Linked DNA regions of Homo sapiens: all the other regions are linked to region 1. The links come from fine-mapping of genetic effects on gene expression. A gene starts in region 1. Each other region holds a variant in brackets. All regions are shown on one strand. Distances are from middle to middle.

Evidence for each region. PIP is the estimated chance that this variant, and not a neighbour inherited with it, causes the effect.
Region 2: its variant is fine-mapped to the expression of DSE in whole blood (TOPMed, PIP above 0.99).
Region 3: its variant is fine-mapped to the expression of DSE in lymphoblastoid cells (TwinsUK, PIP 0.95).
Region 4: its variant is fine-mapped to the expression of DSE in whole blood (TOPMed, PIP above 0.99).
Region 5: its variant is fine-mapped to the expression of DSE in whole blood (TOPMed, PIP 0.94).
Region 6: its variant is fine-mapped to the expression of DSE in lymphoblastoid cells (GTEx, PIP above 0.99). The same link has a PIP of 0.9 or more in T cells.

Annotation. Positions count from the first base shown.
Region 1 is chr6:116,368,345-116,372,522 of GRCh38, reverse strand. It overlaps DSE (dermatan sulfate epimerase), which reads right to left and starts at 1,576. Exons shown (of 6, transcript NM_013352.4): 1 at 1,402-1,576. LOC100287467 (a long non-coding RNA gene) reads left to right here and starts at 804. Exons shown (of 1, transcript NR_148944.1): 1 at 804-4,178. RefSeq lists enhancers at 705-1,205, 2,720-2,769 and silencers at 1,203-1,497, 1,260-1,789.
Region 2 is chr6:116,464,583-116,468,760 of GRCh38, reverse strand. No RefSeq gene overlaps it. Among named protein-coding and RNA genes, the nearest start is that of CALHM6-AS1, 3.0 kb to the right of the region's middle. The variant A/G (reference allele first, on the strand shown) is at 2,546.
Region 3 is chr6:116,417,993-116,421,992 of GRCh38, reverse strand. All of the region lies in intron 2 of DSE (dermatan sulfate epimerase), which reads right to left. Among named protein-coding and RNA genes, the nearest start is that of CALHM6, 41 kb to the left of the region's middle. The variant A/C (reference allele first, on the strand shown) is at 2,250.
Region 4 is chr6:116,433,365-116,437,364 of GRCh38, reverse strand. DSE (dermatan sulfate epimerase) reads right to left here. Exons shown (of 6, transcript NM_013352.4): 5 at 3,815-4,000; 6 at 1-1,778. The coding sequence ends at 20. Among named protein-coding and RNA genes, the nearest start is that of CALHM6, 26 kb to the left of the region's middle. The variant A/G (reference allele first, on the strand shown) is at 1,755.
Region 5 is chr6:116,470,237-116,474,414 of GRCh38, reverse strand. No RefSeq gene overlaps it. Among named protein-coding and RNA genes, the nearest start is that of CALHM6-AS1, 8.6 kb to the right of the region's middle. The variant C/A (reference allele first, on the strand shown) is at 2,218.
Region 6 is chr6:116,390,338-116,394,337 of GRCh38, reverse strand. The region is part of intron 1 of DSE (dermatan sulfate epimerase); the gene reads right to left. Among named protein-coding and RNA genes, the nearest start is that of DSE, 21 kb to the right of the region's middle. RefSeq lists an enhancer at 3,509-3,668. The variant A/T (reference allele first, on the strand shown) is at 1,524.

The DNA of each region.
Region 1 (4,178 bases):
TATACAATATTGTTTATCACTATTTCACATAGAGATTATCATTGAGAATTTTGTTTTGTTTTGTTTTGAGCCTGTCGCCCAGGCTGGAGAGCAGTGGCGCAATCTCGGCTCACTGCAAGCTCCGCCTCCTGGGTTCACGCCATTCTCCTGCCTCAGCCTCCCGAGTAGCTGGGACTACAGGCGCCCGCCACCACGCCCGGCTAATTTTTTGTATTTTTAGTAGAGACGGGGTTTCACCGTGTTAGCCAGGATGGTCTCGATCTCCTGACCTCGTGATCCGCCTGCCTCGGCCTCCCAAAGTACTGGGATTACAGGCGTGAGCCACTGCGTCCGGCCGAGAAATTTTTTAAAAACTTGAGGGAATTACTTAAAGTTTAAATTCTATAATGTGAAAAATACTAAAAATATGTATAAGTGAGATCTTTCATGCATTTAATTAACAGTGCTAAACCATGACTTTCTAAACCATGACCAACGAAAAAATTTTTAAAAAGAACTTTATTACACGAAGATTCCTAGAACTAAAAGCGTCATTGCCTGACCTAAAGAATTTCAGGTAAGTGAGGTTCACCTCCTGATTTTAACCAAAGGCTTCGGTTTCCATCTGAATGCCAGCCGGCTTAAGAGGAGGCTGCTGCTTTAAAGGAGCGATATAAACGAAAAAGTTCTCAGGTCACAAACTTAGCTCAGATTCCAGCCCCGACAGATCTTGAGCCCATGTGGCATCGCTTTCAGAGCTTCCCAGTCTGTGAGTCAAGCCCCCGCCTCCTCCCCTCCCCGGGACTGCCTCGGGGATGAGGTTTACTAACAATTTCTCCGAGTGCCGGCGGAGCCCAGGAGCGCTGGAATCCAGCGTCTGGGAGAGGCTTGGGGAGCTCTTCCTCGGCTTCTGCAGCCGCAAAGTAGGGTTGCCAGCGCCAGGATCTGCACACAAGCCGCCGCCACCTCCCCTGCCCCCAAATGGCTGGGGTACGGAGGGAAAGGAGGACGCGAGGGTGTGCCACCCAACCCCGCAGAGTGAAGCCGAGGCCCCAAGGACCGTCGAGGAAATCGCGGCTGGGCCGGCCAGATCCGACGCACGGAATGCGATCTCCAGGTTCTCATCGTGTTCCCGGCTCGGTGCTCGGCGTTCAAGGGGGTGGGGAGGATCGAAAAGCTGCCCCTCGAGGCTGCTCCGCCGCCGGGGAAGCCCGTGGCTCAGGCTTCACGCGTCAGGCGCTCTCTCGGAGTCCAGCCGAGCCGGGCCCGGGCGCGCAACCCGCGGCGCTCCGCTCTCAGCCGGGGACGTGGCTCTCCGTCTCCCGCCCGCGCCGGGACAGCCCCGAAGGCTACCCGCCCGAAACTCCCGAAGAAAGTTGCGCCGCGCGCCCCAGCTCGTCCCTTGCGCGCCCCTCCACTTACCGCTCCCAGCCGAGGCTTCGTTCTCTCCGGCGTCGCCTCCGCAGCCTCCAGAGCCAGCTCCCGGTCCTCCTCACTCCAGGGCGCCCGGGCTCCCGGCCCCCTCCGAACCGAGCCCTCCGCGCCCCCGCCGCGCCATGCCCCGGGATGCGCTGCTGCAGCCTCGGGCGACGCTACTGAGAGCCGGGCCGGCGGGGGCGGGTAGGTGTGGGCGAAAGGGGCGGAGGGAGGGACGCGGCGGGCGCTGAGGCTCCGCTGGAGGGGGGAGGAAACCGCAACGTCACCAGAGCCAGAGGAGACGAGGATGAGGAGAGGGAAACGGGGACCCCCTCCCCCGGCCGAACCCCGACCGCAGGCCCGCCCCGCTTTCTCCCGCTCCTCCTCTCCCGGGACTCGCCGCTCGCAGCTGTGCTCGGCCTTCCACGCCACCCGGCCCGGACTCCACCCGCACCCCCGCCCGCCAGGCCTCTTTGGCTCTAACTTGTTCTAGTTTCTTAGGACTCAAACGCTTCGGGTTCGAGAATCACACCCAAAGGAAAGGTAACTTTTGGAGGCCCAGGGGGAGGAGCTGATGCTTCCATACTACTCTGCGAGAGGAAAGCGAGGAAGACGTTAAGACTCTTACTACCGGGACTGGTGCCCACTCCAGTCTGCCTCCTCCCGAATAGTTACTGCCTCTTTTCTCTCGAATTCGGTTTTACTCTCTTCTCAAAGAGAAGTTAGTGGGAGGGGGGACTTTGGGGCGGGGGTCACCTATAGAGAAGCAGTTCTCTTTTTTACTGTACCAACAAAATACACTAAATCCAAGCGCACCGAACCCTGCAAACGGAACAGATTTTAATCACAGAAGGTCAGGAGCAAAGCATTTAATGTAGGCAGCTCACAAACAGAAATTTATCTTACGCGGTGGGGGGGTGTGTGTGTGTGAGAGAGAGAGATCCCTCATGCACCCAAGTTCAGGTGGAGCATTTGCAACCTTGGTAGTCACAGCCTCCTGGAGAAGAGTCCTCCTGTTTTCCAAAAATCAGCCACTGCTCAAACACGCTCAGCCAGGTCCAACCAGGCCCCAAGGAGATGTGAGGTAGGATCAGGGCCATCACCTCAGGAATACTTTGCCCCTTCCACCTCCACCCAGTGTGTGCAAGTAACCTACCAGACCTAGATTGTACAGAAGTGAAAGATTTGTAGGATACTTACCCATTCATTAGAATGAGAGATATTTTACTGGGAGCAGTGCTTTTCTCCATGAGTTCTGAAGGGCACCTCCATCCAATTCCTCTATCCTCAGAGGTTCTCACTTCTATTTGGCCAAATAAGGAAAAAATGTGGATGTCTCAGTTTATGCTTCTCTTTTTCAGAAATTGCATTTAAGAGGAACTCCTTACAAACAGGTCAAGAGGAAGTGGTACTATTAAATTTTTTAAATGTTCACTCAGGTGAACCACTAATTTGCATAAACTTCTTGATGCTTTAGGGAAGGCCTGTCGAGGAGAGAAGAGGGCTCTGGAAACTGGAACTAATCTTTGGTTCAAATCCAAACTTTGCTTTTACTACTGTGGGCCTTGGAAAACTAACATCAGAACCTCAGTTTCCTCATCTATAGTGTAACAATATAATACCTTGTTTGAACAGTTATGGAGAGGATATAATAAAAATAGCTAATGTTTATTGAGAGTTTACTACACCATATCAGACGGTCACTGTGCTAAGAGATTTACATATACTAATTCAATTATTAGAATAAATTGTGAAAGTGTCTAGCTGTATTATGTAATCCGTAAGTGTTAATTTCCATTTATCTTCTCAAATTTGAAAGAGACTTTAGAAAAAACATCTGGTTTAATTTACGTAACCTCTCAGCAAGTAGTAGTCTAGTTCAGTGATTCTCCAACCTAGAACTTTAGAATCAGCAGGGGAGCTATAATAAATTCTTTCCAATGGGGACCCCCACGCAAGAACAACAAATCAGAATCTCTGAGGTTAGGGTCTAAGCATCAGCATCTGCATTTTAAAATCTCTTCCTAGATGATCACAATGTACAACCAGGATTGAGAATTCTTCAAAGGAGGTAGTACTGACTGTCATTTGCTCCCCTTTACCCTCACACCCCCCACAATTTTGCTTTTGAGTGACCTGCGAATTGGCCTCTGGATGACATTCACTTTGTGCAAAGCCCCCCCCGTCCCCCCGCCCCCGCCCACCCCATTACAGTAAGTCTCAACAGATCTGCTATTCTGCTCTCTGGAATCTACAGGATACACCTAGCCTTGATTCCACAGGAGAATACTTCAATTTACCTGGGTACATATTAACTCCATCAGCTTTTCTTCATCCATTAGGAAAGCTCTCAGGAGGAGATTTACTTTGCCAACATCTCTCTCAAACCCTGATGCCAAGAATTGAATTCAAGGTTTCACCCAAGTGACAAACTAGAAAGATGTTTAATGGCTTTGTTGTAATTACTGTATTTCCCTAAGTATATCCTTGGAGCTTCCATGGCAGCAATATTACCCAGCTGACTCCATATTACAATCTACCAAATAAAACCTTAAAGTGTTAAAAGTTTAGTTGGAGAATCACTGAACTAAACAACTACACTCAATGCAGTGTTCAGCACTTTACCTGTGATTCTACTGAATTTTATTGTGTTAAATTAGGCCTCTTAGCTTGTTGACATATTGGGTATCATTGATATAACTGAGTAATTCCACCTCTCAATTTCATGACCTCTGTAAATCCGGTCTGTATGCCATGCCATCATTTAAGTTCTCATTCTCAGG
Region 2 (4,178 bases), 96 kb before region 1:
TAGATGCCTAAAGTCTGCAATGATTAGGGAAATGTCAGTTGAAACCACAATGAGAGATACCATTACATATTCCCCTGACAAAAAGTAAATAACTAGAAATACCAAATATTGCAGAAGTGAGAAGCAATGAGAATTCTTATAGTAGTATAAATGGATACAATCCTTTATATTTGACATGATATAACAAACTGGAATATGTGCATACTCTCATGCTACCACTTATTCCCAGAAATGCACTCTGAAGAAACACTTGCTCGTGTTTATCAGAGTACAAGTGCATGAATGTTCATACCAGCAGTGCTGATAAGAGCCAGAACTGGGAACAACCCAAATGTCCATCAGCAGTTCAATGGACTACATTATAGTATATTTGAACAATAAAATACCACACAGCAATCAAAATAAATAAATTGTCCTAGACATAATGTGGATTAATCTCTTAAAAACAAAAAGAATATCACAAAACAATTATTACAGCACGATTGTATTCATTTAAAGTTCAAAAACCAGCAAAACTAAGCATGGATAGTTTAGGAATGCACACTTAAGTGGTAAAACAGCAAAAAGAAAGAAATGATCACTTCTCACTTCTAGGTGGAAAGAGTTGGAAGTGTGAAAGGATGTATGAGGCAGGGGTTTCTGGGGTGCTGGAAATGTACATTTCCTTCCACTCTTCGGTGGTTACATAGATGTTTGCTTTGTAATAATTATTAAATTGTACATAAATGTTTCATATACTCTTCTCTGTGATTTATTTCTCATAATTTTTAAAATGGCAATAAATTGCCGGATCTTGTAGGATATTCCTTTCATTTGGAACTTCTTAATGTTCTAGTCCTTGTGGCAAATCATCTTGAAAGAATATACCCTTTTTTGATTTGGATCTTTTAAAAAATCATTTTATGTATGTATGTATTTATTTATTTAGAGACATGTCTTGCTCTACCACCCAGGCTGGAGTACAGTGGCACAATAATAGCTCACTGCTACCTCAAACTCCTGGGCTCAAGTGATCCACCCACCACAGCCTCCAGGGTAGCTGGTACTACAGGTGCACAGCACCACACCCAGATAATTTTTTTTTTTTTTTTTTTGGTAGAGATAAGATCTTGCTATGTTTCTCAGGCTGGTCTCAGAACTTCTGGTCTCAAGCAATTCTCCTGCCTTAGCTTCCCAGAGTGCTGGGATTACAGGCATGAGCCACTGTGCCAGCCCTGATTTCAGTCTTTTTCACTGGATAAGAATATAATATGATCAATTCCACAGTCCTTACATTGCAATTTACAAGAGATATTTCATAAGTATGTAATGAAGAGGAAGGGACAAAATTAAGTCAACTAAAGGCTTTGCTTTTGGGGTAGGCTTAGTGTGAGGTGTGCTAAACACTCAGTGGGAGTGCGCTGCTGTCAAAATAGGCCCTGGCTGCTGCTGCTGGGGCTGACTCAGAGAGGGAGGGTTTCTCCATCTTTTATCTTGGGGAGAATAATTTATTGTAGGCCACCTGGTAGATAAGATGCAGGATGTTGTGAAATTTAGAGTTCCAAGATGTTTTTCAGCCAGAGACATTTGAGTATTTGGCTAATTCTATTTTCAGATACTCCCCTTAGGACTTGCTTCTTTAGTCAGTTCATTGAGCATTGATATTTCTAGCCATGGCTTTGGATAAAGCAAGGAGACCATTCTTAATCTTATGCCTTGTTATTATCTTGCCAGTACTCGATACAACGTAGAATCATCTCTTATAACAATGTGGTTGTTTTTCAGCAAATATTAATAGCAGATTCTGCATCTGAATCTCTTTAAAGGTTAGGTGTTCAGGATAGCATAAAGCTGGGGGTGATGATGAAGAATCATTTGGTAAACCAGCAAATAAATACATACTGAGTGTAGAAATGCTTCTTCAGCCAATGATGCAGCCTGTTTGGGCCAGGCCCAGAGGAGTGGTGACTTCTGCCAAATAGCAGTGACCTTGTTCCCACCAAGAAATAACTTACTGTGTCTCAGTCTCACCATGTTTATTCAAAGTGGTCTTTCCTGTTAGTAGTTGCTGAGTTTCAAGATAAAACGTCAAATATTGAGGGTCACTAAGGAGATCTGTATCTCTTCTGCCCACAAAGTCACATGGGCTAGGAAGGGAAAAATCTGACCCAGTAATAAAAACAGCCAGTGGCCACATTAAACTACATCATCTAGGGAGGATCCGTACCCTACCTTTGGTTTTGCCTTTATTGACATGTAACTTTGGATTAATGATGTAACCTCTTTAACTTTCGATTCCCATTTGTAAATGTGAGTGAGGTGTTTCACGGGTAACCTGGAAACTTGTTAAAATGAAATGAAATAAAAGATGCAAAACTGCTTTTTTGACTGTAAAACTCTACACCAGGGTAAGGTTACTTTTTAAAAATTTCCAATTATACATTTAATATTTATTATTCATTACAACAACTCCAAAGATCAAAAGTGCATGAAATTAAAAAAAATTCCTGCACCAATCTTAGTCCTCAGAAGGGACCACATTTGATAATTTAGTGCTTACCTTTCT[A/G]CACTTTATGAATGTGTGTGCATGTGTGTGGGGGCTGGTCGGTGGGGTTAACAAAAAAGGGATAATATCCTACTAACCAGTAAAATACTAAGTAGCAATTTTTTAAATGAGGTAAATTGTCAGATACTGACATGGAATAATTGTACTTTATGTGTAAAAGTTACAGAACAACACTTATGATAGAGTTTATGCAGACACAGAGTTTATACATGGCTACTTCTGAGAAGAATATATTGCAAAGGAATGAGGTAATTTTATTTTACTTCTCACCATTCTCTACCATTACAATTATTTTCTTAAGCATATATATTTTCACAATAATTATTAAGGACTGTGCAAGAGGAGGTGGAGCATAAATCAAAACAATGGAGACAATATGATACTACTGAAGATGCAAGTATAAGTGATAGAACATAAAAAAAGTTTTGAAAGGAAAGAATATACAAAAAGATATTGGAGGCTGGGCGCAGTGGCTCACATCTGTAATCCCAGCACTTTGAGGCTGAGGCAAGCAGATTGCTTGAGCCCAGGAGTTCGAGACCAGCCTGGGCAACATGGTGAAACCCCATTTCTACAAAAAGTACAAAAATTAGCTGGGCATGGTGGCACATGCCTGTGGTCCCAGTTACTCAGGAGGCTGGGGTGGGAGGATCACTTGAGTCAGGGAGGCAGAGTTTGCGGTGAGCCAAGATCTTGCCACTACACTCCAGCCTGGGTGACAGAGTGAGATCCTGTCTCAGACGAAAAAGGAAGCAGCAATTGGAAAATGAAATAAAGGAAGTAAAAATGAAACTAGGTATGATATGATTTTCAAAAGCATTCTTTTAGGGAATGAAAAAAAGCTGATCACGCTGTTTCTGCTGCCAACTTTCTTGTTACGCATGACTCTCAACAACAGGATATTCTGCCCTGTAGGTTAGTTCTTTTTAACGGCCTTATGCAGAAAAAGGTAAACAGAAATCAGCATAAGCTTCTGCCAAAAGAGGAAGAAGGGCTAAATATGACCAGTGCTCAATTATTTTATAGTTTAAAGTTTTTTTATCTCATATTTTAAAATTCAGAAAACAGCCACAAATTTGGGGAATGGGCAGGAATGACAAGCTAATGGAAGGCAAGGATCGCTGAAAAGTCCCGGCATTATAAAGTTACAGAATTTTATCCGTAGATATAATTGCTCTCACCGTCTTTAGAGACTTTCTATCAACAAATCCTGCCACATCTATGTACAAAGTCTACCTTGAATCTATCTACTTTTTCCATTTTGGTCCCCATCCACTCAGTTCAAGTTCACTCCCACCTATTTCCACTGTAGTGGCCTCCTGATTAGTCTCTCTCCTTCTACCCTGGCTCTCCTGCTTCCCATGTCATTCCTTTTCTCTCAAGGAAAGCAAACCATCTTCCTAAAATGCTCATATGATGAAAACCAAAATCCTTCTCATGGTTTCCAGGCACTGCACACTCAGTCCCTTGCTCATTTTTTTCAGTCGCCTTTCAGGTTTCCAACTCTGCTAACATCTTTTTCTCCCTAGTCTTTGCACATACTGTTCCTTCAGTAGGACTGAAATGCTCCTTCTTGCTACCCTACAGGATTCAGTTTTCAAAAAGTTTCCTCAAATCCCTTCTCCCCTAATCT
Region 3 (4,000 bases), 50 kb before region 1:
ATCAGTCAAGTTTTAGTGTAGCGTCAAAGAAGAATATTCACAATTATTTGAAAAGATTATTAAAATACTCCTCCCTTGTCAATCACATATTCCTGTGAGGCTGGATTTTCTTCACATACTTCAACCAAAAAAACACATAGCAACAAATCAAGTGCAGAAGCAGACACATAAGATTTGCAAAGATGTAAAACAACACCTTCCTTCTATTTTTTGTTTTAAAAAAATATAGTTTGGCTGGGTACAGTGGCTTATGCCTGTAATCCTAGTGCTTTAGGAGGCCAAGGTAGGAGGATTGCCTGAGCCCAGGAGTTCCACATAGCAAAACTGTCTGTACACAAAATAATTTTTTAAAAATTAGCTGGGCCTGGTGGCATGCACCTGAAGTCCCAGCTTAGGAGGCTGAGGCAGCAAGATTGCTGGAGCCCAGAAGTTCAAAGCTGCAGTGAGCTATGACTGCACCACTGCACTCCAGGCTGGGTGACACAGTGAGACCCTGTACCTAAAAAAAAAAAAAAAAAAAAAAAAAAAATATATATATATATATATATATGTATATATAGTTATTTTTTCCTAAAATATGTTTATGTTAATATGAAATGAGCTTTGACAATATATAAATATGAGTAAATGAACAAATAAATGTTTCAAACTTCTCAGTTTTAATTTCTAATATGGTAAACTTTGATAGATACAGCCCAAATAAACAAAGCTGTTTGATGTCCTCATTAATTTTTAAGAGTACAAAGTGCTTCCAAGTCCAAAAAGTTTAAAAACTGATACTTTGAATATTTTCAAAGGTGAATTTATATGAAATAAATTAATCTGAACACAGGAAAGAGCTATTGATTTTCTGAGTGTAAGGGTGGAATGTTGGTGGGGAAAGGCATAGAGTTTGGTCATGATGTGCTGTGTCTATGAATTAAGTTGTGATTCTGAAAGGAAGAATGAGCCATAACTATTTTTCCAAAGTTGAGCAGTCTCATTAATCCAAATTTTTGTACCAATTTTAAAGGGATAGACTGCTTCTATTATCATAAATGCTTTTTAAAATATTATGTATGGAGTATAATAGTTGGCAATCGAAGAAGTCTGTATCACTAAAAAGGTGACAGTTTATTTGATTAAATAACCATTAAAAGGAACCCTAAAAACAATGTTGCTATCTATTTTTATTGGTATAGATTTGAACTGCAAGTGATTAAATGCTTCTATTTTTAAAATTTTCATATAGTTTTGATATAGACAGTCTATAGAAAATAACTGCCTGTGAAAAGATTAAAATTTAACATTGCAAGGTTCACAGAATATTATTTAAATTTGTATACTGTTGTCTTAGCCCAGGCTGCCATAACAAAATGCCATAGACTGGGTAGCTTAAACAACAGAAATTTATTTTTTACAAGTTCTGGAAGCTGAAGGTCTGACATCAGGGTGCCCGCATGGTCAGGTTTTGGTGAGAGCTCTGTTCCTGGCTTTTAGAAGGCCGCCGCCATCTTACTGTGTGCTCACCTGGCCTGTCCTAGATGTATGGTGTGGGGATAAGGCAAGCGTGAGAGAGAGTGCACAAGAGTACAAGCTCTCTGGCACCGCTTCTTATCAGGGCACTTATCCTATCATGAGAGCCCCACCTTTAGGACCTCCATCTAAATCTAATTCTCTCCTATAGGCCCTTTTCTCTAAATACTTCCACATAAGGGGTTAGGGCTTCAATATAAATTTTGAGGAGGGTCCCATTCAGTTCATAGCAACTGTCTATTTAATTTACACAAATACTGCTAAAATAAACACTTACAATAAAAAGAAATTAGGTCTTTGAAAACAAAGATGTGCCAAGAGATCACTCATACTTATTTAAATTAATCAACAGTATACAAGAAACAAATACTAGAAACAATAGAACTCATAATTCCCTTTATAATTAATCCTATTTCCTAGTACTTTTCAGAACCTAACAACTTTATAGCAGGCTTTTCCATATGTAGCTATGCTCCAAAGATCACAATTTGATCCACAGTATAGGCAAATCTACATATTTTTTAAAGTGTATTTAAATGAGACTTTATGATTTGTCAGACCTTTCCAACAAAGGAGGATAACTCCAATAAAATGATCCATCTTCTTTTTCTCATTTTCAGAATAACTATAGTTTTACCAACCTATAAAATATTTACTTCGTAAATTCATAAAGTAGAAGATTTGCGTTTAAAATCTGATTTTATACAGTAGATAGTTATGGAACTACAAATTTA[A/C]GTTAAAATGAAACAAGCTTTACAAAAATTATAAATTTACATTCAGAACACAACAGTGAACTCCTTAGAAATTGCAAACTCTAAAAGTACCAGGGTAGTGCACCACCAGCTTCCCATTTGCCAGCTTTGCTGCAGCTGTGTCTACTGTACATATGCCACACCTCTGTCCACGTGCACTTGGGCACACCATTAAAATAGGCCAGAATTAGGTCAACTCTATTTTAAAAATGTAAATTATTCTATTCATTCTAAAAGTCTCCTGAACACAGTAACTTGATAGAAAACCATTTAACTTTCAACCAAACACCTTTGTGTGTTTGGAAACAAACTCCAATAAGTTAAGACAGTCATGTATTACCACTCCTTTTAAAAACATGACTAATGCAGTAGTGATTCATCTTTTTTCCCTCCATTTTAAATGTGAAAACTAACCATGAATGTTAAATGTTAGTAATATGTTAAATTTGGTATGGAATTCCTATAAATGTAGCTAAAGGGAAGTGGATTTCTCACCTCTGAGGCCTCATCTGTAAAGCACATTGGGTCTTGGCAGACATCTGCCAAGAGGACCAGATTAAGCCTGAAAGATAGAGACTTGATCTAGGAGGCTCTGAGTGGGTAGTCAGCAGTCCAAGGGGAATGTTCAGCTAATCTCTGGCCTGGCTTGGCGTCCATATTCCAAGTGTTTGATCAGGTGGCTAAAGGTTAGCACTGGCATTGTGAAGCAAAATGCACAGGGAGGGAAAGGAGAGGGGAGTGTACTTCATATTAATTAAGCACATGTTATGTGCCCAAGCCTCTAAGTACATTGTGTCATTTCATCTTCTCAACTCAACATTAGGTATTCCGTCCCCATTTTATAGGTTGTGAAAAAGCAATTTGGATAGGAGATTACTTGTTCAGAGCCACACAGTTAAACAGTGAAGCTGAGAATGGAATCCAGAATTATCTGAATTATCTGAATCTAGAATGGTTTTGCCTTCTTAGTGAGGGGAAGAACGGCGCTTTCAAAGAATGTCACCAAGTTTGCAATAAGAACTGAGCCAGAACATGCCAGAGTCAGTGGCTCTACCAAAAGCTAGGCAGAAGGGTCCAAGGGTTCTAAGCCTTGCCATTTTCATGACAGCAAGACAGAGCAAGGCATGAGATCTGAGAAAAGGGGCACACATTAGAAGAAGAGATACTGCCATTCTGTGCTCATGTGGTTGCTCAGGGCCCACCCAAGGAACATGAGACACCAATCATGTAGATTTCCTGAACAACTCTTTCCCTCCCTGATGAGCCTGCACACCTAATGTACTACTCTAAGGTAGAGTTGGTCCAGGGGATGGTGGTTCTGGTTTGCATCTTCAGAACCTTGGGCCCCTTAAGGTAGTAACAAACACTCTCTTCGTGATCAAACCCTAGCCAGGCTCCTCTGTGCCTTCTTGGCTAGGCCTCAACCTCATTCCATGAAGAGTAAACACTAACAAGTTTCCAATACCTCAAGGTCATATCCCTGAGATGACCCTCTCCCTGTTGAAAGTGTCTGCCTAAGAAACTCAAGGCTTCCAGAAAAATTTTGTTTGTTCCTGTCAACATTTGAGGATAGGGTCTCTGTCTTTCAGTCTCTGTGGGAGGATAGAATTCTACCCTCGATAATTGCCACTTAGCAGATGTGTGATTAGCTGGCCTAATCACATGTACATTGACTACCCTTTGTAATTTTTCTCTTTCCTGGCTCTACTAAGCCCCTGCTTGCCCTCCTCCCT
Region 4 (4,000 bases), 65 kb before region 1:
GTAATTTATAGCTTCAGTGCTAACACTGTGATTGGGAACAAGAAGAGTACAACCATAATAAAATACAGCTATCTATGAGAAGAACTGCATAAAGACATCTTTGGCCATGTAGGCTCTGGGCCCTCTGGAAATAAGTCAGTTGCATTGCCAACATGACAAAGAAAATAGCAATGTTCAGAATCAGGAACAACCTGGTATAGGAAGCAGACAGTGATGGGGCCCTGCTGTGTGTAGTTGTCACCATCCGTGCCTGTCCAAACCGGCCTTTAATCAAGCCCCCATTTTTATGTTTCTCGTATGTTACATCTGCAAAATCTAAAAGGTCTTTCATTTCTTCATCTTCATCTATGGGTAGTTCTTTCTGTGCCAAAATCTGAGCTTTCTGTCTAATCTTTTTCTCATTGACTTCAATCTGTGCAAAAATATCAGGGACAGCATCCACAAATTTATAGCGTTTGCCTGCCCTTCGGTTTTTCTTTGACTTGCTTTGCTGCTGCTGTTGCTGTGATATGGCAAAAATCCTGTCAATGGCCTCCTCAGTCTGTCTCTTATCTGAAAATCTCAGCAGGCGTTCAGCAGTCTTCCTAAAGCTAGCTGTGTTCCGGACTCGGGACAGTATCTGCTTCTCCAGCAGCTGAAACACTGGTTTAAAATGCTGCAAGTTCTGTTCCACAATAGCAGCATAGTCCTTCACCTCAGGGACAATGCTGCTCTTGATGGCTGAATTCCGGTCAAACAGAATTTTGTGACGATCAGCAATGACCTGTGCAAAGGCAGACTGTCCTGTGGCCTCACCTGTCCACAGGTATGTGGCGTAGGCATGTTTGCTGGTGGCTATGAACACATCCAGTTGCTGAGAGTCTCCGTGGACAGTGAAGCTCTGAACATCTATAGATGGCCCTATGAAGAGGTAAGCTGCCCTGGTGATGGGACTTCGGAGGTGCATGGTGACATTCACATAGTTTGTCCCATTGTAGGGATAGCCCCGAGGATATGTCACTGAGGCAAAGGTTGCTTTCTCGCTGTAGCCAGTATCGTCCATCCAGTACATTTTATAGAGACCATCTCTCTGCCTGATGAAAGCCCCATGGACACCATCTACCACAGTCTCCTCAAAAGGAACATCCACATTATGGAAGAAGCTCGCTGCTGTCTCCAAGGGACTCTCCTCTCCCAGGTGTATTTGGTCTACAAGGAGAAGCAGCTGTGGATGTAGGAGGATGAGATTCCTCTGAACATTCTTCAGGTTGAGCTGGGGGTTATAAGCTCCCACACCTTCTCCTCGGATGAAAACCACCCCATTTTTCTCCTCTGCTGCAACCACCCTCCCCTGACAACTAGCTGCCAGGTCATGCTTGTATTTAGACCATTTTGATGAGCAGTCTTCTGTGACCTGACCCACCCAGGGAGAAAAGCAGCTCTTTGACACAGCTGGGGAAAACATCAAAACATTGTTGAAGAAGGTGTACTTTGGCCCGTACAGAGCCTCAGTAATGAAAGGCACACCATTGGGAGCAAAAGTAAATGAGTTTTGATCAGGATGTTCATGCCCTGCATTAAAATTTCTCCATCCTTTGATCCAATCTTTGTATTTGTTTCTGTGGACAATGTCATATATTGCACGTCCCCCCAGTTTTCCAGACTTGAAGGAAAGGAAAGATCTATTGATTTCTGCAGGTAGTGCACTTCCATAAGTCACGACACCCCAGTCTTCAAAATAATGCAGTGTAGGGGTGCCAAAGTCTGGAGGAGGA[A/G]CCGATTTCAAGCTGCCATCATACCTGAAATTAATTTTGAAAAATTAAATGGTTTTCTGATGGCAGTGAAAATAACACATAACATGGTAATGTGGAAGATGCGACACACAAATGCTACCCAGAGCACTGGCAGTGCAGAGTATATTAGGGACAATTCTAAAAATATCCAAGGACAACCAGTATGCACAAAGGGAAACCCTTGGTGACTGGAAGAGGAATATTTCTTTATCATTTGTGATCCTTGGGTTTGGGCCCGAAATGATTTCTGCTCTAATCTCTACATGGACTATCTTCACTTGATGATGTCAGAGTGACCATTCAAACTACTGGGCCTCATGGATTTAAGCACTTCATCCAAATTTCTGGTTGAGGGGCTCCTCTTCTAGAAATGCCATGTTAGAATCTGGACTCTAACAAGCCTTGAGTTGTAATAAAGTATAGTTCTGCAGTAACTGATATTATTGAATGTTTGGTATTGAAAAGAGTTCTCCCTCAAGATTTTTTTCCTTGAAAAAATAAACTGAAATAGAGGAGAACTTCACATATTAGATAAAATGTATCACCAACACCACATCTCAGAATATAAATGGATGAAGTTTCAGCAAACTGTCTTATATTGAGGGATTTATAATTGTGCCTACTACTGACCAGCCAGGTCCAAAGGTTTGGTTTTGTTTTAATCTGCAGATGATGCCATGCTTCTTGGACAATAAATGACTTCTTATTTTCATTTATGATAAATGTTTATTATTAGCACTATGTACTTTTCCCTAAAGTAAATCAATCACCTAGAGTTAATCTTATTGGTGTTTGATATTGACTGTTTCATCTGTTGTTCTAGAGTCTCAGTTTCAAGACATCAGAAATTATATCTCTACTTAGGTCTAGTATAATGTTGGCTTAATTAATGTGATTTAAAAAGTGTAGATGTAAGCTGAATTGGCCATCTTACTCTCAGTTTTTGGTCAGTTTGCATATTGCTATAAAGGCAGATTTTTAAGTTAGACTTAGCATTAATCTGACCTATTAATCCTGTAGTTAGCTTTATAGAACTCTCTTCATTGAATATTTATGAGTAACTTATTTATGGGTTACACTATTAAGTAATTATGTCATACTCCTGAGAGAACTCAAGGATGGTTGCATCTTAATATGTTTAGTTTATCTATGAAAATAATCTTAAATTGTTGGTTAAACTATAGACACCATTTTACTAATATTTTTTCCTCCTTAATTTTTTTGTATTTTGAAAAAAAAGGATAAAGAGAAGCAAACCACAAGAAAGCTTGTTTTGGAGTTGAATGCAAATTTCAACAGCTTGAAAAGACATCAGGGATTAATGATTAATCAGTTCCCTGTAATTTTGATTTTAACTTATTGGATGCCAACAACATATTTGGCAATACTTTAAAAAGGAGACCCAAGCTTCTCTTTCTGGGCTTAAAAGATTAAGGCAAAAAAATTTATACGGTCCTTTTATTATCAAAGTGAAGCTGTCAAATACTGTCAAACACTTTTAAACACTTTTGAAAATTTAGTAACAGCTTTGCTATTAGAAGATTATAATGCTCCATTTACCAAAACAAAATATTTTACTACCTTTTTTTTGGTGTGATTATCAGAATAACCTAGTCTAAATTTTGTGTTTTGTTTTATATGCTTTCAAAAAATGATGTAAAATCAAAACATGCTTATTTATGAAATAGTGCAAGTGTAGGACAGCTCTAATATGAGAACCAAAAACTGAAAACAGTAATTAGATGTTAAACATAAAGAAATGTTTCTAACACTACCTATTAGGTACTATGCTCACTACCTGGGTATACTGCACATGTACCCCTGTATCTAAAAGTTGAAATTTTTTTTTAAAAAAGAAAAGTTTCTAAGAGTTTCAAAAACAGTGATATGAGTTGAATTGAAACTTCATATACTCAGGTGGCATGGAGAAAAGATTTAAAAAGTGTTTTAGTTTTTCTTTTTAAATGCAAAAAAACAAGTGCATAGCATGAATAGTACCCTTGGGTACCATTTCTCTTTAAAGCTAGCCCAATGTGTCATACCAGAGAAATTCTGTGTGCAGAGTGCACCAGCGCTGCCCTTTGGATGGTGTTCCTGGACCTTCCACCACACGGTTCCTTCTGATTTGGTCAGCTAGCCAGTTACCACTGCCATTACGCATGACAAATTTATCAAGGAACACTAATTGGCTTTCTGGACCATAAAACCAGTTGTAATTTGAGTCCGCA
Region 5 (4,178 bases), 100 kb before region 1:
GATCCCTTTCCTGGAGAATATAGGCTTAATTTCAGCATTCTGCAAGCCAGGTGGGAAAGAGAATTGGGGAAATAAAATTTCAATATGTACATTTTAACTTAATTTCCTTTTGTTCAATATAGTGTCCCTGCCTTCAGTTATACCTATTATCTCTCAGTCCAGAAATATTTTTGAAAAACTATATCTAGAGCTTAAAGCTCCCATCTTCTGCTAGGGTAGGGAGAAGCAGTTGCTTGGCTGCATGGAACGGGACAGATATCTGAGGGACAATTTTCCTTAAAAAGGTTTTCAACCAATTCTGCTTTTAACTCCACCTCCAGCCCCATATCTAGAGGTGAATGGTGCTGCTAATTCCTGAGAATTTTACAGATTCCATGGTGTAAATCATATTGCTTATTTTTTTCCACTTCTGGCTTAGGTTTCAGATTTTTTTTCCTCGGGTCTATTAGACCAATTATCAGGTACCATCTATGTTTTTTGTTTGCTTGTTTTTTGTTTTTGTTTTTGTTTTTGTTTTGAGACAGGTCTCACTCCCGTCGCCCAGGCTGGAGTGCAGTGGGGAGATCACAACCTACCGCAGTCTCAACTTCTCAGGCTCAGGTGATTCTCCCAACCTGGACCCCCCCCCCGTAGCTGGGACTAGAGGTGTGCCCCATCATGCCTGGCTAATTTTTGTAGTTTTAGTAAGGCAGGGTTTCACCATGTTGGCTGGGCTAATCTCGAACTTCTGGGTTCAAGCGATCCACCCACCTTGGCTTCCCAAAGTGCTGGGATTTGTCTGAGCCACGGGGCCCGGCCACCATCTACTTTCTAGCTCTCCAAAATTGTGTTTGTTTTTGTTCCCCTTCTTGTTCTCTGCTTGCTTTATGCCACTGAAAAAGATCCCTTTACTTTTTTTTTTATTGTGGTAAAATGTATACTTTCAAATCAACAATTTTGAACAGAAGTACCTTTTCCAAATATTAGTCATTGCCAATGATAATATTTACCAAGCGCTATTTTTAATAAGTCTAAATTGTTAAATCTCAAATCGGAGGGGAAATATAGAGGATATGGAATAAAGGTGTAGATTTTTTCCCTTTTTTTTTTTTTTTTTTTTTTTTTTTGGAGACATAGTCTCGCTCTGTCACCCAGGCTGGAGTGCAGTGGCCTGATCTTGGCTCACTGCAACCTCTGCCTCCCGGGTTCAAGCGATTCTCCTACCTCAGCCTCCCATGTAGCTGGGACTATAGGGGCCTGCCACCATGCCCGGCTGATTTTTGTATTTTTAGTAGAGACAGGTTTTCACCATGTTGGCCAGGCTGGTCTTGAACTCCTGACCTTGTGATCCACCCACCTTGGCCTCCCAAAGTGCTGGGATCGCAGGTGTGAATCACGGCACCCGGCCTGGTGTAGATTTTAAGAAAATAAAACTGACAATTTTAAAGAGTGAGCTTTACCATACATCTGCAGGGAAAGTTAGGCAGCTTCTAGCTGGGATAAATGTGCTTGGCAGCCTGGAAAGACTGTGGAATTCTGTTGGTATGAACAGTGGCAAGCAGACTTAAAAGTTAAAGAATGTGGACTTGTTAAAGTTAGTCCTCTTAGATTATATATGAATTGAATAGGAACAGTTATTTCATCAAGAAATATTGAGCAGAGCTGGAAGTAGAGAAAGAAGTTAGGACTTTGATTTTTAAGTAGGAAATTGATTTTTAAGAGGAAAAACATCTGTTTTTGATTTTGTGCACTGCCCTCTCTTCAAGTGCTTTTAAGTATCTTTAAAGACGCCTAGATGCAAGAAGATCTAGTCTCCATGAAATAAACCATGTCTTAAGGAATCCCCTATGCATCCATCTACTTGCTTGGCCATTGAAATAAGTTGCCCTACAACTTGACCATATCTCAGATACGAGTTTATTTAAGTTGCCTTTTTTGAATTAGACTATGTGATTTAAGAATATCGTGAAGTAAATTAAACAACTGTTGGTGGCCATCTGCCTCTGATTATCTGAGGTACAATTTTCCAAACTGTGTGTTCTGGGAAACATCAATAACCCTTAAGTTGGTGAATACTATATGGAAAAAAACCCTGTTTTTGTTTTTTAAATTTTCTTGCTTTACTATATATAAGAAAAATATGAAATATATTTATATAATTTTATAGTGCTATATATAATCTGCCTTTATGAAATGGAATGCCATACAAAAAAGACCAAAAAATAACATTAGCAATCA[C/A]CTGATTTATGAACACATGGATTTATGAACACTCTAACATGGTTTTGAGGTCTAGGAATGATAATGTATTTACCAAAATGCCACGTCTGGTTTCAGATTTATTGTCTATGGTTATATATCGTGTGTCTCAAAATTTCAAGAAATATTTGCAATACTTAAAAATGTTTTTCTTCTTAAAATAAAAACATATTTAATTTTCTCACATGTTTTTATCAGTTTTGTCGCTATTTTGTGGGAGTTACAAACAGATTTTAAAAAATCTTCAGAAGTTATAAAATCATGCTGGAAAGAGGAAACATACAGTTTTATCATAATACAAGGTTTATGGTCAAGTGTTATAGTAAGTTTGAGAGGTGAAGTCACAGGATTCAGAGGAGAAAGTTACTGTGGACTGATACAGTTGGGGCGCACACTGATGAGGAAGTATGATTTGAAATAGGACTTGGAAAATAGTGACAGCTGGAAGATTGTCCTTCTCAGTCTCTCACACTCTCACATGTCTTGCCATATGCCAAGACTGCAAAACTCTGACTGCTTTTTACCTAGGCCATGTCTTAGAGTTCTGTTTGCAGCAAGCAACTTAAAGAGATGAAGTAAAGTCTCCTTTTTGGAAAAAGAGCAGGTTTGATTATTAGTTCCTATAAAATGGCAGTTCCCCAAGCTCACTGTTCTCTCCAGTAATGCAACCTGCTGTGTGTGCAAATATCCATCTTAGCCATCTCTGTTGCCCCTGTAGGGCTTAGGGACAAGGGGAATCAATGCAAACATGATACTCATGCTGTTTGTGCTGTTGTGATTAATACAATTTTTGTCACTGGGCTAGACATTTCATCTCTTCTGCCAATTTTCATGATACAGTAATAGACTATTAGCTTGTAAATAGGGTAAAATAAAATCCCAGACCTGACACTGGGGTAATGAGAGATTAGTATGTTTTAGAAAGCACTGTTCAGTAGGAATGTAATGGAAGGGACCTTCACTGGGGGCTCTGGGTAGCCAGCAAGTTTATGAGGTTAGACTTTCAGTAGATTTGACTTTTCAGCCCAGATTATTGGAATCTAACTCATTCTCAAGCCTTAGCTAAAATATTTCCTCTTTAATGAAATTTATGTGAATATTCCTAGGCAGATCTGTATTCTGAAAACACTTTGCTTATTCTTTTATTATAGTTTAGTTTTTTATTCCAATTATGGCTAATTGTTTACGTATTTGCCTACTGATTCTTTGAGAGTAGAAGTAACATCTTATTTCTCTCCTTTTCTCTGATCCCTTTAGCCTACTGCCTTATAATAATAATAAATTTTGTTTATTGAGCATTTTCTAGGCATTATCTCATTTAATCCTCACAAAATCATCTGGGTAAATAATATGATTATTCCACATTTTACAAAAGCTGAAACTGAGATTTGGAGAGGCATTTGAAGTCACATCCTTAGTAGAGGCCAAGCCATAAACCCAGTGTTAACTGCCTCTAGTGTCTGAGCTCTGAATGATGGGATTATAAAGATTCCCACAAACAGTATCCTCTCTCAATACAATCAGCTCTCCATATCCATGGATTCAACCAACTAACTATAGGTCAAAAGTATTTGGAAAAAAATTTCGATAGTTGCAACTGTACTGAACATGTACAAACTTTTTTCTTGTCATTATTCCCTAAACAATAGAGTATAACAACTATTACATAGCATTTTCACTGTAGTAGGTATTAAGAATAATCTAAAGATGATTTAAAATACATAGGAGGATGTGCATAGGTTATATAAAAATGCTACACTATTTTATAGAAGGGACTTGAGTATCCATGGATTTGGTATCCATAGAGGGTCCAGGAACAAATCCCCCACAGATACTGAGGGATATTTCTTGAATGGTTGAAAGTAAATATATTAAGGAGTAGATGGTGACCCTGAGGGCATTAGTTAAATAGGGCCCAAAACTTGACAAGGAGGGTCACTGAA
Region 6 (4,000 bases), 22 kb before region 1:
GAATTATGAATTACAATTACCTTAAGCAGATCTTTATAAAGCAAAGATAGGCCCCAAATTATTTTGCTGTAATTCTGGTTCCAACAATCCACTGCAGCTATTATGATTCAGCAGTCACACAGAAAAACTTCGTTTCTGTGATCCTAAATGCTTTTCACATATTTGATCTTTTACTCTTCAATAACTTAATATAGCAAAATAGTATTATTTGTTCCACAATAAATTTCAGAGAAAGAACTAGAACTTGCACCTCCTAAATCCTAAGCCAAGATTCTTTCCTTTAACCAAACTAATTTGTGAGAATGTTCAATAACATTAAAAGTTCCATTTTTTTGCCATCCTTACACAAAGAAAGCACAGAAGAATATGCTGAGAAGAAAAAACTGAACACTAAACTAGTACATCAAGTTTCAAAAAAGATTTGGGTTTCAAATGATCTGGGACTGTTTATAGAATGAAACAAATGGTAGTACAAAAGTTCTTTCAATTCCACAGGCTTCAGAAAACAGAGAAAGTATAAGGATGGGAGAAAGAAATCACCCTGTAGAGAGTAAAACATGCCCCAAACTAAGATGGATTAAAAAACCCTCTTATAATATGTGCCAAATTTGAGGAACACAACATAATGATTAACAGTATGGGGCATGGAGTTGGGCAGACAAGAGCATAAATCTCAGCTCTGCTGCCTCCTAGCTTTGATCAACTGACGTCCACTCTCAAAACCTCCCTTCTGTCATCCACAAAATGAAATATGCTTCATGGGGTGATTAGACATGTGTGATGCACTTAGCATAGAACATGACATGAAGAGCTCAATAATATTTATAAAAAGGAAGATGTTTCAGACCTGCAAGATTATACTAACCTATTGATAAAATATTTTATTTGAAAGAAACTAAATCTTCATACTTTACAGGTAAAAATATAAGAACTATAGATGTTAACTGACTAGGGCCAGATCATACTGCTTATTAGAGACTTAGTTGAAATTGGAACACAATGCTTCTCACTCTTCAACACATCACTCATAGTAAGCTCATCACTCACTGGAAAGGAAAGTATACGACCCTTTAAATTTTTCAAGTGTTTGTTAGAGGTTTTGCCCCAAAGAAAAGAATAATAGATTAAATGAGCTATTAACTAAATTTTCTTCCTAGGGTCAGTAATTTAATTCTTCATATACAAAAGGCGACCACTTCTTTTTTCTCCTTTATTCTGTCAGGAGAAAGGCCTGCCGATCTAACAGCGACTGGGAAACACAGTCCCTGGCTGGAAAGCTGTTTCTTAGTAACACATTTATATTACGGAAGGAGTACATTAAAATTTAGGGGACACCTGCTGCCACTGCAAGGCGGATAGGTTAACCTCAGTACAGGGTCTGGTCCTGGCTCCATCACTGCCATCAGTATCTCAGCTGATCATCCTGGAGATGAGATGCTACTTAATGTTAGGCTTCCCTACCTCTCACATATGAAAAACCAGAATGTCAGCATATTCGTTTACCGTCAAGCAGATTGGGAAAT[A/T]TTTTCTGACTTCACAGGAAACCAACACAGGAAGTGAATTATTAGATAACTGTCTGGTGAACAAGTAAAGAATCAGAACAAAGGCAATGGGAAAGGCCCTGAACTTGGGGCAACTTGACCAGTTAAGATCGCTACCATAACTTCATTTGAAGGAGGCTGCTGAAATTGCCAGCAGCTGTCACAGATGTCCTTGGGGGTATCATTAAAGACAAAATTTTAAAAACTGAGTTGTAATCATATTTAGAAAACAAGAGTGAAATGTACATCCCCTATAGCTCCTGCCACCACACCCGCCAAGCTCAGCCTAAGAGCAGCTGCTCCAGTTTGCTCAACTTAATGGATGGGCCCCATAGTTAGTTACATGATTAGGAATAATCCCCCACACTAGAACCAGTGTGCCCATATCCATGGCAAGATTGAACAGGCAGACCCGACAAATGAATGTTCCTGACGTTGCACCCTCTCCCGTGGAAAACAGACAGATGTTGCCGAGGTTAGGCACTGTGACTCGCTTGCTCATGCTTCCATTTAAGTCCAAGTTCCCTCCTCCTTCAGGCCTCCATTGAAGTTTTAGGAAAACCCTGATTGCCTGAGAGCATTAGGATATACTAGACAGGGCTGCATTGCCTTCTCTGATCCATTTTAGGATTTAACTCTCAGAGAAACCTTCCAAGTGCTTTGGGGAACACCTTGCTGTGGTCTCACATACTATTTCACTGTTGCTACATATTTTAACTATAGTAATAAAATGCATATATTTTAAAAGGTCTCCTCACTTTTCTATTTCAGTTTTATTAAATGCATAATTAAAATAATTTTTTGAAGAATGTTTCCTCAATACCAAAGTAAAACCTTACATGTCCTTGGTAAATTTTTGTAGTGAAATAAATCTAACCTTATTCTTAAATATGTCAAATCCTAAGAAAACCTATGGCTTTGGTACTGCAGAATCGTTCCCTAAAATTATACTCCCTGATGTGTAAAGCCCGTGGACTCAGACAAAAAGGAAAATCTTAAAACTGAGAGCTCCTTTTTTTTTTTTTTTTTTTTAAGACGGAGTCTCGCTCTGTTGCCCAGGCTGGAGTGCAGTGGAGCAATCTTGGCTCACTGCAAGCTCCACCTCCTAGGTTCATGCCATTCTCCTGCCTCAGCCTCCCAAGCAGTGGGACTACAGGCACCCGCCACCACGCCCAGCTAATTTTTTGTATTTTTAGTAGAGACGGGGTTTCACCATGTTAGCCAGGATGGTCTCGATCTCCTGACCTCGTGATCCGCCCGCCTCAGCCTCCCTAAGTGCTGGGATTACAGGCGTGAGCCACAGTGCCTGGCCAAAACCGAGAGCTCTTAATCAAAATCAAGAATACTTTTGCTCCCTAAAAGGTAATTTCCAAACAAAAATCCACAATATGAAATGATAGTATATGGAACCTCCAAGAATTTGCACACGCTGCTGAAGGAGTAATTAGAAACCTGAGGCCACACAGCAAAACCACACCATGTATAATAACGGTGTTCACCACCTTAAAATACAACATTAAAAAAAAACTTTAGGTCAGGCTTTTATTAACTGCAGCTCTGTACAGTCAAAGAACATTTCTATCATTGTCCCCTGAAAGGTTTTCATGAAGACAGCACACTTTTTCATTATATAATGTGAAGCCCACTTTCTTTGTTATACCAGTGATGATAATTGTATAACTTCCTTATATTAGAATAATTCATGTAAAATATGTTTAAAGTGCTCACAAACATTTTCTGATGTCAAGTCTGAAGGGTTCCTCCCCCATCCACCAGAGACCACCTGAGTGAGAAATGTAGTGGCTATCTAACTAAATTCATAATTTAGTGGTAGAGGTTAGCCTGGTGCATGTTACTACTAAACTACAAACCATTAGTATCCAGCTTTTCAGAGATTGGTTATCATTTCATATGTAGAAAAAAAGTAAAATCTGTATTATTTTCATGGAGGCAAAGGGAAACGAGGGTAGAGATACGAGTGTACAAACGTCACTTATGAGAGTACTGGGGCATCTAATTTTGCTTACAGAAGGCCAAAAGAGAAAATGAAACGGTTACACTTTCTAAGATAAGCTATAAATAAATTCTAGCTTATCTAGCAGTCTAACAATTGAAGATCTTCTGATTAGTATTTCTTTATTACAATTTTAGTTGATTTTCTTAATGATGGTTTTAGAATACACTATTCTAAATTATTTTCAGAATTTTTTATTTTAATATTATTTTCAGAAGTTAATATTGAGCATAATTAAGTGTATTTTTTATGCTGAATCACTTAAAAAGTAGTAATTTTTGCCTGTTATGCTTTGCAGTGCATTGTGATCCAGTACTGGAATATCAATTCCTTACCCAAGTTGGGGATAAGAATTTCTTATAAATACCAATAAATTCTACTATGTATTGAAAAAGTATTAAATCCAGGAATTATGGGCCAGGCACAGTGGCTCATGCCTGTTATC